Homo sapiens: one gene and its partners. The protein of the gene in region 2 purifies or fractionates together with the protein of the main gene of each other region. This does not show direct contact. Each region holds a gene or a part of one and is shown on either strand. Other genes may lie near its edges.

Region 1 (3,655 bases), on a different chromosome or scaffold from region 2:
CAAGTTGTATAGATTCCATTTGTATCTGCTGGGAATTTCATATTACTGCAGTAAGTTCACTCTTAAGGTATACATTATATATGTACATAATACAATGCCAAATTTACTGAGCACCTATTATGTGCCAAGTGCTATGCTAGGGCCTGGAGCTATAGAAGCAGTCTTTGATACCATGAGTGAGGGAAAAAAGAATTTCCACGTGGTTTGAAAAATGTTATTAAGAGATAAGCGTAGGTTTGATACACAGAGGAAGGATCGTCAAACACGTGTGGGAAGGAGACCAGAGTAGGCTTCTGGGTAATGAGGATATTTTAACTGAAATCTGAAGGATTATGAGTTAGGCAGAAGAGAGGAAATGGTGTTCCAGACATGGAAAGTCAAGTGCCACGACAAGGAAATACGAGAATATGTCAAGTTTCAGAAAAAGCAAAGTGGCCTAACATGGCTGACTGCAAAGAATGCGCAGAAATGAAAGATGTGGATTGAGGCCTATATAGTTAGAATCCTTATATGCCAAACTAAAGAATTTTAATGATATTTGAAAGCAATAGCAGCTACTGTGAAAGATACTCAGCACAAGAGGGACAGGATCATTTTACTGCCTTAGAGATCCTTGGGGGAGCGGCTAGGTGAAGGGGGTAGAACCAAGGAAAGATGACTGGCTGTAGAGTATCTGAGAAGAGGGTAGAAGACTACAGGTAGGAAGACTAATTGCTCTGCTATGATTCATACAAAAAATGAAAAGGATCCAGCCTATAACAAATAGTGGTAGAAGCAGAGATAGGGCAGAAAAGAGTAATATTTAGAAGGTAGAATCAACTGGACTTGGTGAATAATTATAGGAGGTAAAAACTGTGATTTCCAGGGTTCTTATTTGTAGAACACTAAAAACAGAAGAGGGAATACATAAGAATAATTTTAAAAAGGGAAGGGTGATTAGTTCATTATTGGTTATGCTGAGTTTGTGGTATTTGCTGTATATTTAAATGGAGCAACATAGGCACATAGTGCTCAGGAAAATGATCTGTGCTTGACATATAAAATTAGGAACATTACTATTTTGGTAACCATTGAAACCACAGAACACATAACTAAAGGAAAAAGGTTTAGAATATAAGTCCCAGAGTCCCCAACACTTAAAGGTACAAAATAAATAACATAGGAAAATAATACAAGGTAGCAAAAAAAAATCAGGTAACGATGTAACCAAAATTAAAGAGGACAGAATTTCAGGAAGAAGGAAGGAGGCATGTCAAATGCTAAGGAGAATTTACTTCAATTAGAGTAACAAATACATAACTAATATTTTGCATGTTTTACTTATTAATTTTTCTACAAATCAGATGTGTCTTTATATTCTACACACCTCTGTTTCAGCTTGAGTTCTTTGACAGCGATGCTGAGCAATCAGTCTATCAGCCTGTGCAAGGGCTAGAGCTTTTGTTTCCAAAAGATCTTGTAGCCTGCTTTCTTTGGACTACAAGAAAACATATCATTAATTTTCATTTTAGGAATACATCTATTAAAGCTTATTACACATTGTTAAAATAAGCTTATACTCACAGCTAATGTGGATAGTTTCATTTCATATACATCCATTATGTCAGATATTCTCACATCACAAATCTGATCCTTTACCTACATTTTAAGAGTAAAAAAACTTAAAATTTTAATAAAATATTTTGACACAATGACAAAATAAATGCCTACTTCAAAACTAAATCATTAAAACTTAATGATGAGTAACAAAATAAAAACAAATGCTACATCAGGTAAGTCACAAATATTTCTTTTTTTTTTTTGAGATGGGTCTCACTGTCACCCAGGTTGGAGTGAAGTGGTATGATCTTGGCTCACTGCAACCTCTGCCTCCTGGGTTCAAGTGATTCTCCTGCCTCAGCCTTCAGAGTAGCTGAGACAACAGGCATGAGCCAACACGTCCAGCTAATTTTTTGTATTTTTAATAGAGACGGGGTTTCGCCATATTGCCCAAGCTGGTCTTGAACTCCTCAGCTCTGGCAATCTACCCTCCTTGGCCTCCCAAAATGCTGGGATTACAGGCGTAAGCCACCGCACCCGGCAAAATGTTGAAATTTTGACTGATTTTTCTTATTTCCAAATTTTCCAGAATATTGTTATTTCTTATATTAAGGTTTCAATAGTGAAATCTGTACCTGACAGTGTTTAGATACACGTTATAATTGGGACTGACATATAGCTAATATGTACCAGGTTATAATTGCTATTTTTTCACTCACCACCATTCCAGACTGAAGTTTCTCTATTAATTCTTCAATATTCAATCCAGGAACACCATCTTTCAAATGAGGAGTTAAACACTTTATTGATGTTGGAAAACTGTGATTTGATGATTGCCAGGGCATTTTTCTGGGTATATGTTCTGTTTCCTGTTGTCTATAGGCATTGTTTGCTGCTATACTTTCTCCAAGTCTGAATGGGAGTCAAAGAAAGGAAAAAAAAATTATACGAAAATAGAAGAAAAGGCAGACTTAGTGCAGAATTAGGGAATTTTTAAGAATGGGTCCTTTTTTTGAATAGAAGTCTTCAAATAATCTTGGAGACCATGATGAAATGAAGTCTTGGGAAATATTCTGAATTTTCCAGAGCACCCACTTTTCTGTTTCTAACCTTTTATAATGACAGCTTCACCTCTGGTTTGGAGGCATTGTAAGACTAGTTTATGAGTGTGGATTATCTGTAATAAGTACAAAGTTATTGGTACTGGTCAGAATAATGTTCTTATCATGGGTGATATCACCTGGCCTTTACGTCCTTAGTCCTTTTCCTTTCTCACTCAGTACATACTTTTCACCAACCTGACTTCCATTCTAACCCTTTAAAATCCTCTCTTTCTCCTACCTCAGGCCTTCATATGAGCTGTTCCTTTATCTGGAACACGCTTTCTACCACAAAACAAAATATTTTTTTCACTTATCTCTTAACTAAAGTGCAAACTGCAAGATGGCAGGCACTCAGCCTAATTTATTATAGGCTGGGCATGGTGGCTCACACCTGTAACCGCAGCACTTTGGGAGGATCACTTGAGTCCAAGAGTTCGAGACAAGCCTGGGCAACCTGGTGAGACCCCTCTATAAAAAAATAAATTAATTAAGCAGTTGTGGTGGCACAAGCCTGTGGTCCCCGCTACTCAGGGGGTTGAGTTGGGAATATCACTTGAGCCCCAGAGGTCGAAGCTGCAGTGAGTCATGATCACACCACTGCACCCCAGTCTGGGTGATAGAGTGAGACCCTGTCTCGAAAACAAACAAGTAAATACACACACACAAAAACCCTACCTACCAATGCATCCATAATATACATTCAGTTTATTAAACGCCCAAGATAATGTCAAATAAGGGCATTAAATAGTAAGCATAAAATGGACATCTGAGATAATGCCCAAAGAGAAAATTATTTACAACACAAATAAGACAGGGAATGCCAAGACACAGTCAAAATGGTGGGAAGGCCTCACACACAGAGGCAGAGGATAAGACTTCCATGTTCAGTGAGGCTGCAGATTCCCCTTTGAAGCTCTTAAGGTTTTGTTTCATGTCAGATTACCAGTTTATGCAAGCAGGCCATCACAAAATAGAGCAGCTTTACAGACCACTTTTAACTTGTAACTTGAAAA
Region 2 (3,655 bases):
AAACTCCCTACCCATTCAACACTAACTCCCCAGTCCCCTCTGCCCCCAGCACCAGGCAACTACCATTCTACTTTGTGTCTCTATGAATTTGACTATTCTAGAGATGTCATATAAGTGGAATCTTACAATATTTGTCTTTTTTTTTTTTTTTTTGAGACAGGGTCTGGCTTTGTTGCCCAGGCTGGAGTGCAATGGCACGATCTCAGCTCACTGCAACCTCCACCTCCAAGGCTCAAGTGGTCCTCCCACCTCAGTCCCCCAGGTAACTAGGACTACAGGTGTGCACCACCACGCCCAGCTAATTTTTGTATTTTCAGTAGGGATGGGCTTTCACCATGTTGGCCAGGCTGGTCTTGAACTCCTGCGCTCAAGTGATCCACCCATCCCAGCCTCCCAAATTGCTGGGATCACAGGCATGAGCCACCGCACCCGGGCTATTTGTCCTTTTGTGTCTGGCTTATTTCACTTAGCATAAGTTCTTCAAGGTTCATCCATGTTGCAGCATGTATAAGAATTTCCTTTCCTTTTTAAGGCTGAGTAATATTCCATTGTATGTATATACCACATTTTGTTTAGTCATTCATCCATTGGTAGACACTGGGATTGTTTCCACCTTTTGGCTATTGTGAATAATGCTGCTGTGAACATTGTCTAAACATCTGAGTCCCTGCTCTCAATTAGATTGGGTATGTACCCAGAAGTGGAATTGCTGGGTCGTGTGGTAATTCGATGTTTAATTTTTGGAGGAACCACCGTACTGTTTTCCATAGCAGCTGCACCATTTTACATTCCCACCAGAAATGCACAAGGGTTCCAGTTTTTCCACATTATTGCCAACACTCATTATTTTCTGGGAGAAGGGAGATTATTTTTAAATACAGATTGAGAGATTGAGTATCCCTAATCCAAAAATCCAAAACACTCCAAAATCTGAAAGTTGAGCACCAGCATGATACTTAAAGGAATGCTCATTGGAGCATTTCAGATTTTTGGATGAGGAATGCTTAACAGGTAAGTATAATGTATACAATCCACAATTCAGAATCCAAAACATTTCTGGACCCAAGCATTTCAGATAAGATGTTCAACCTTTCTTTTTTTCTTTTTCTTTCTTTTTTTTTTTTGAGACACAGTCTCGCCCTGTTGCCCAGGCTGGAGTGCAATGGCGTGATCTTGGCTCACTGCAACCTCTGCCACCCGGGTTCAAGCGATTCTCCTGCCTCAGCCTCCCAAGTAGCTGGGATTACAGGCACCCACCACTATACCTGGCTAATTTTTTTTGTATTTTTAGTAGAGACGGAGTTTCACCATGTTAGTCAGGTTGGTCTCGAACTCCTGACCTCAGGTGATCTGCCTGCCTCGGCCTCCCAAAGTGCTGGGATTACAGGCGTGAGCCACCACGCCCGGCCAATGTTCAACCTTTCATAGCCATCCCAATAGGTCTAAGTCACAGGGAATTTTGAAATCTGGGTTAGACCACAGAGACTTTCTCTTTGTGGAGGGAGGGCCACAAGAGATAAGGGTTTTTGGGCATACTTGGGTCCATCCACATCCCAGGCAAGGGTTTTTGGGCATACTTGGGTCCATCCACATCCCAGGCCTCTCAGAAACTAGAAATGTGAAGCTGCTCAAGTCAGCCCAGGAGTTTGTCCCTCACCTCTGATCCTGACTCCTTCCTGGCCTCTCCCCACGCAGGTGCCTGGCTGCTACAAACCATGCAATGAGCCATGCCCCGCCCTGGACACCCCCGCCCAGCATCTGGGCCTCCACGCTTGGGACCGTGGGAGCGGCCAACAGAGCTATGTCTGGAGACATATGATAAACCACCTCAGCCCCCACCAAGCCGCCGCACCCGTAGACCAGACCCCAAGGACCCTGGCCACCATGGGCCAGAGAGCATTACCTTCATCTCTGGCTCTGCTGAGCCGGCCCTTGAGTCCCCCACCTGCTGCCTGCTCTGGCGACCCTGGGTGTGGGAGTGGTGCCGGGCTGCCTTCTGCTTCCGCCGCTGCCGGGATTGCCTCCAGCGCTGTGGAGCCTGTGTGCGGGGATGCAGCCCCTGCCTGTCTACTGAGGACTCCACTGAGGGGACTGCTGAAGCCAACTGGGCCAAGGAGCACAATGGAGTGCCCCCCAGCCCTGATCGTGCACCCCCCAGCCGGCGGGATGGCCAGCGGCTCAAGTCAACCATGGGCAGCAGCTTCAGCTACCCCGATGTTAAGCTCAAAGGCATCCCTGTGTATCCCTACCCGAGGGCCACCTCCCCAGCCCCTGATGCGGACTCCTGCTGCAAGGAGCCACTGGCCGATCCCCCACCCATGCGACACAGCCTGCCCAGCACCTTTGCCAGTAGTCCTCGTGGCTCCGAGGAGTACTATTCTTTCCATGAGTCGGACCTGGACCTGCCGGAGATGGGCAGTGGCTCCATGTCGAGCCGAGAAATTGATGTGCTCATCTTCAAGAAGCTGACAGAGCTGTTCAGCGTACACCAGATCGATGAGCTGGCCAAGTGCACATCAGACACTGTGTTCCTGGAGAAGACCAGTAAGATCTCGGACCTTATCAGCAGCATCACGCAGGACTACCACCTGGATGAGCAGGATGCTGAGGGCCGCCTGGTACGCGGCATCATTCGCATTAGTACCCGAAAGAGCCGTGCTCGCCCACAGACCTCGGAGGGTCGTTCAACTCGGGCTGCTGCCCCAACCGCTGCTGCCCCTGACAGTGGCCATGAGACCATGGTGGGCTCAGGTCTCAGCCAGGATGGTAGGTGGGGGCCCCATGGGGCTGAGGGGCAGAGTAGGGGAGGCTCTGGCCAGGGGAGGGTTGGAATGGGGTCTTTAGTCACTGTGGGTCTACCCCTCAGCCAGTCCCTGCCTTTCCTCCTCCTTTCTGTCAACTCTTGCATCCCCTCTCCCCAGCTCCCACTCTGGCCCTTCCTGGTGAGGTCCGAGCAAGGCTGAGAGAAGCATGCAGACCCTGGGAGAGCTCTCTGGCCATCGCTGCTGTCCCCAGAAAGGTCAAGGTTCCCTCTGCATTCAACAAGTTTACCCAAAAGGCTCCTCTCCTCTGCTGTCTCCTGCCAGAGTAGCTTCTAGGCCTGGTCTGGTGAACAGGACCTAGGGACCCACATGAATTTGGGCCTCTGACCTGTTCTGGGCTAACCAAAACTCCCACTCATCCATCACTCTGCGCATGCACACGTTGTCTATGTCTCTGTCTTTAAGCATTATTTTTCTAGCCCTGCCCAGGAGTGAGTGGCTCCTCCCTCATCGGGCTGGGAACAGAAGTAGGAAATAGGGTTGAAAGAACGTGCTAATGACCACTGCTTGCCTCACGTTCCCTCCCTAGAGCTGACAGTGCAGATCTCCCAGGAGACGACTGCAGATGCCATCGCCCGGAAGCTGAGGCCTTATGGAGCTCCAGGTGTGGTCTTGACCTAATGAGGGGTGTGGAGGGTGGGGGACTACCCTAGGGGCCCCTCACCTGCTGCTCTCCCAGCTTTCTTTTGGGGTGATGAGGATGACATCAAAAAGGGACGGGGACCTAAGCAGCCACAGACCTGTCTCCATCTAGCAAGCTGGCTTAAAGTGGGTGCAGGTGCCCAGAACAGGCAAGCTGAAAGTGATCAGACCCCAACCTTCAAGCCCAGATG
Region 3 (3,446 bases), on a different chromosome or scaffold from region 2:
CTTCTCTATAAAAAGTTCTCTTACCTCAGCCTCCTGAGTAGCTGGGACCACAGGAGTATGCCACCACACTTGGCTAATTAAAAAAATTTTTTTTCTAGAGATGGGGTATCCCTGTGTAGCCCAGGCTGGTCTCGAACTACTGGGCTTAAGCAGTCCTCCTGCCTTGGCCTCCCAGAGTGCTGGGATTACAGGTGTGAGCCACGGTGCTTGGCCAGTTTGTTCTTTTTTATGACTGAAAAATAGTCCATTGTATGGACATACCACATTTTGATCACCCATTCATCCACTGATGGATATTTCAGTTGTTTTTGCTTTGGGACTATTGTGCATAGTGCTACTATGAATGCTTATGTACGAGTTTTTGTGTGAACATATGTTTTCAGTTCTCTTGGGCATATTCCTAGGAGTAGAATTACTGGGTCACATGATAACTCTATGTTTAACTGTTTGAGGAACTGCCAAACTGTTTTCCAACAACTTTAACTTTGGGTTTAAATTATTTTGCTGGGCCGGACGCTGTGGCTCACACCTGTAATCCCAGCACTTTGGGAAGCCTAGGTGGGTGTATCACGAGGTCAAGAGATCAAGACCATCCTGGCCAACATGGTGAAACCCCGTTTCTATTAAAAAATACAAAAAAAATTAGCCAGGCATGGTGACGGGTGCCAGTAGTCCCAGCTACTCGGGAGGCTGAAGTAGGAGAACCACTTGAACCTGGGAGGTGGAGCTTGCAGTGAGCCAAGATTGCGCCACTGCACTCCAACCTGGACGACAGAGCAAGACTCCGTCTAAAAAAAAAAGTGGCTGGGCGCGGTGGCTCATGCCTGTAATCCCAGCACTTTGGGAGGCCGAGGTGGGTGGATCAAGAGGTCAGGAGATCGAGACCATCCTGGCTAACATGGTGAAACCTTGTCTCTACTAAAAATACAAAAAAACAATTAGCTGGGCGTGGTGGCAGGCGCCTGTAGTCCCAGCTCTTAAGGAGGCTGAGGCAGGAGAATGGTATGAAACCGGGAGGCGGAGCTTGCAGTGAGCCGAGATCACGCCACTGCGTTCCAGCCTGGGTGACAGAGCAAGACTCCGTCTCAAAAAAAAAGTTACTTTGCTTATACTAAACACAAATTTTTCAGTAGGATTTTATTGAATGTATGCTAACCAATACCAAGGAAATATGATTCTGAAAACAGATTTGTATAATTAATTAATTTAAAGGGAAGGCTGGCCTAGCTTATTGTTAGGTAATGTAAATATGTCCTTTTTCCTGAAATTAATATAAATTCAGTGTAATCCTTATTACAATCTGTCATTGTTTGATTTTTTTTTAAATGACAGATAATCCAAGAGTTCATTGGTAAAACTCAACAAATGAGGATAATAAGAAAATGAAAAGGGAGAATAATGTCAGCAAAGGGGGAAATATATGAAAAATAAATTCTAAGTAAAATAGTAAACCTTATTCTAAAGCTGTAGTTATTTAAGTACCATGATACTGGCACAGTAAACAGATCAGTGGGACAGAATAGAGTTCAGAAACAGATCTAATTAATGAAAAATACAGTGTGGTAAAGATTGCATTTCAAATTACTGTGGGGAAATGGAATATTAGAAAAATAATCTTGGGACCACTGATTAGTCATTAAGGAAAAAACAAGACTGGATATTTACCTTATTCCTTATATCAAAATAACTTTCAAATGGATCAAACATTTAAATGTAAAAAAGGAAACCATGCAGATCACTAGAAGAAATATTTGTGAATTTTTTGTTTTGTTTTGTTTTTTTGGAGATGGAGTCTCACTCTGTCACCCAGGCTGGAGTGCAGTGGCGCAATCTTGGCTCACTGCAAGCTCTGCCTCCCGGGTTCGCGCCATTCTCCTGCCTCAGTCTCCTGGGTAGCTGGGACTACAGGCGCCTGCCACCACGCCCAGCTAATTGTTTGTATTTTTAGTAGAGATGGAGTTTCACTGTGTTAGCTAGGATGGTCTCGATCTCCTGACTTTGTGATCCCCCCACCTCGGCCTCCCAAAGTGCTGGGATTACAGGCGTGAGCCACTGCGCCTGGCCAAATTTTTTTTTTTTTTATAATATTAGAATGGGTAACGCCTTTGTAAGTCGGTGATTCAAAAGATCAATAAATCTGAAAGCACAAATATAAAACATTTATATTTGGTAACAATAAATAAATAAATAAAGCCAAAATACAAACAATAAAATCTTAAGATTATCTGTAACTCATAAGACTGAAAAGGGCTAACTTCTCTATAAAAAGTTCTCTTACAAATCTTTGAGAAGACCTTCCTTACTTTCTGCCTCCTCCAGACAAAACTGGGTAAAGGATTTTAATAGGCAATTCATAAAAGAAGAATAAAGTAGAGGTCATATAAAACAATATTTAACCTCACTCATAATTAGGAAAAAAAATAGTAATTTAGCATTTCTTTCATTTACCAGATTGTCAAAAATTTTAAAATTTGATAATAGGCAATCATGTAGACAGTTTAGGACAGTGGACACTGTTGAGCATTATTGACTGGAATATATAGTACTTATATAACCTTTTTAGAGGGCCATTTGACAATGTCTGTGAAAATCATGTTCTTTATGACACGGTAAATTATTCTGCAAAGAATGTGTCCCATAGATATATTCATAGAAGTAGGCATATATACACACATGCTTATAGTATTAAATAATAGCTGTGCATTTATTAAAAAGAATACAGTCTGGGGCACTGTGCCATGCACCTGTGGTCCCAGCTACTTGGGAGGCTAGGAGGCTGAGGCAGGAGGATAGCTTGAGCCCAGGAGTTCAAAGCTGTAGTGTACTATGACTGCACTTGTGTACAGCCATTGCACTCCAGTCTGGGCAACCTAGCAAGACCCCATCTCTTAAAAAGAAAAAAAGAAGAAGAATACAGCCTGAAGTGAATAATATGCATGATATGATCCCCATTTGTATTTTCAAAAATGTGTTTGTATACTTAGTAATAATTTAGAAAACATCTGAAAAAATTCACATCAAAATGGAAATGGTTTTTAAAATATTGACCGGAATTACAAACATAATTATTCCAAACTTGTCTATTTAAATTTTGTTATATACTACATTTTTGAATTATTTAATTTACTGTTAATTTGCTATTTAATTTACAGTTGGCTTTGAAAAAGGAAAGTAAATCTTACCTTTTTATGTATATAAAAAATAATAGACTTTTAGGTCCTTTTAAAATAGTCTCGCGTATAGTTTTAAAATATATTTACATATCCACACTGTACTTTAAAATTCTTTGCCTTTAAATTAAAGAAAACATGAAATTCTCCCAGAATGGCTGTTTTTAGAATAGGATATAATCATATATAATTGCTAAGGGAATTTGGAATTTAATGGTATCCCCCTTCATTTGAACATTTCCTCTAGAAGAAACATAAAGCCGCCACACAATACTG

Evidence for each region.
Region 1: the proteins of KDF1 (region 2) and CIP2A purify together in Homo sapiens (affinity purification with mass spectrometry, with the first as the bait; one large-scale study listed by BioGRID). This does not show direct contact.
Region 3: the proteins of KDF1 (region 2) and SEC24B purify together in Homo sapiens (affinity purification with mass spectrometry, with the first as the bait; one large-scale study listed by BioGRID). This does not show direct contact.

The regions. Positions count from the first base shown.
Region 1 is NC_000003.12:108,558,391-108,562,045, forward strand, and holds part of CIP2A (protein CIP2A), read right to left. Parts: intron 2,452-3,655; coding exon 2,259-2,451; intron 1,639-2,258; coding exon 1,564-1,638; intron 1,478-1,563; coding exon 1,367-1,477; intron 1-1,366.
Region 2 is NC_000001.11:26,950,453-26,954,107, reverse strand, and holds part of KDF1 (keratinocyte differentiation factor 1), read left to right. Parts: intron 1-154; exon of another isoform or gene 155-262; intron 263-1,695; 5' UTR 1,696-1,727; coding exon 1,728-2,766; intron 2,767-3,351; coding exon 3,352-3,426; intron 3,427-3,655. UniProt on the Homo sapiens protein: Plays a role in the regulation of the epidermis formation during early development. Required both as an inhibitor of basal cell proliferation and a promoter of differentiation of basal progenitor cell progeny.
Region 3 is NC_000004.12:109,534,765-109,538,210, forward strand, and holds part of SEC24B (protein transport protein Sec24B), read left to right. Parts: intron 1-3,446. UniProt on the Homo sapiens protein: Component of the coat protein complex II (COPII) which promotes the formation of transport vesicles from the endoplasmic reticulum (ER).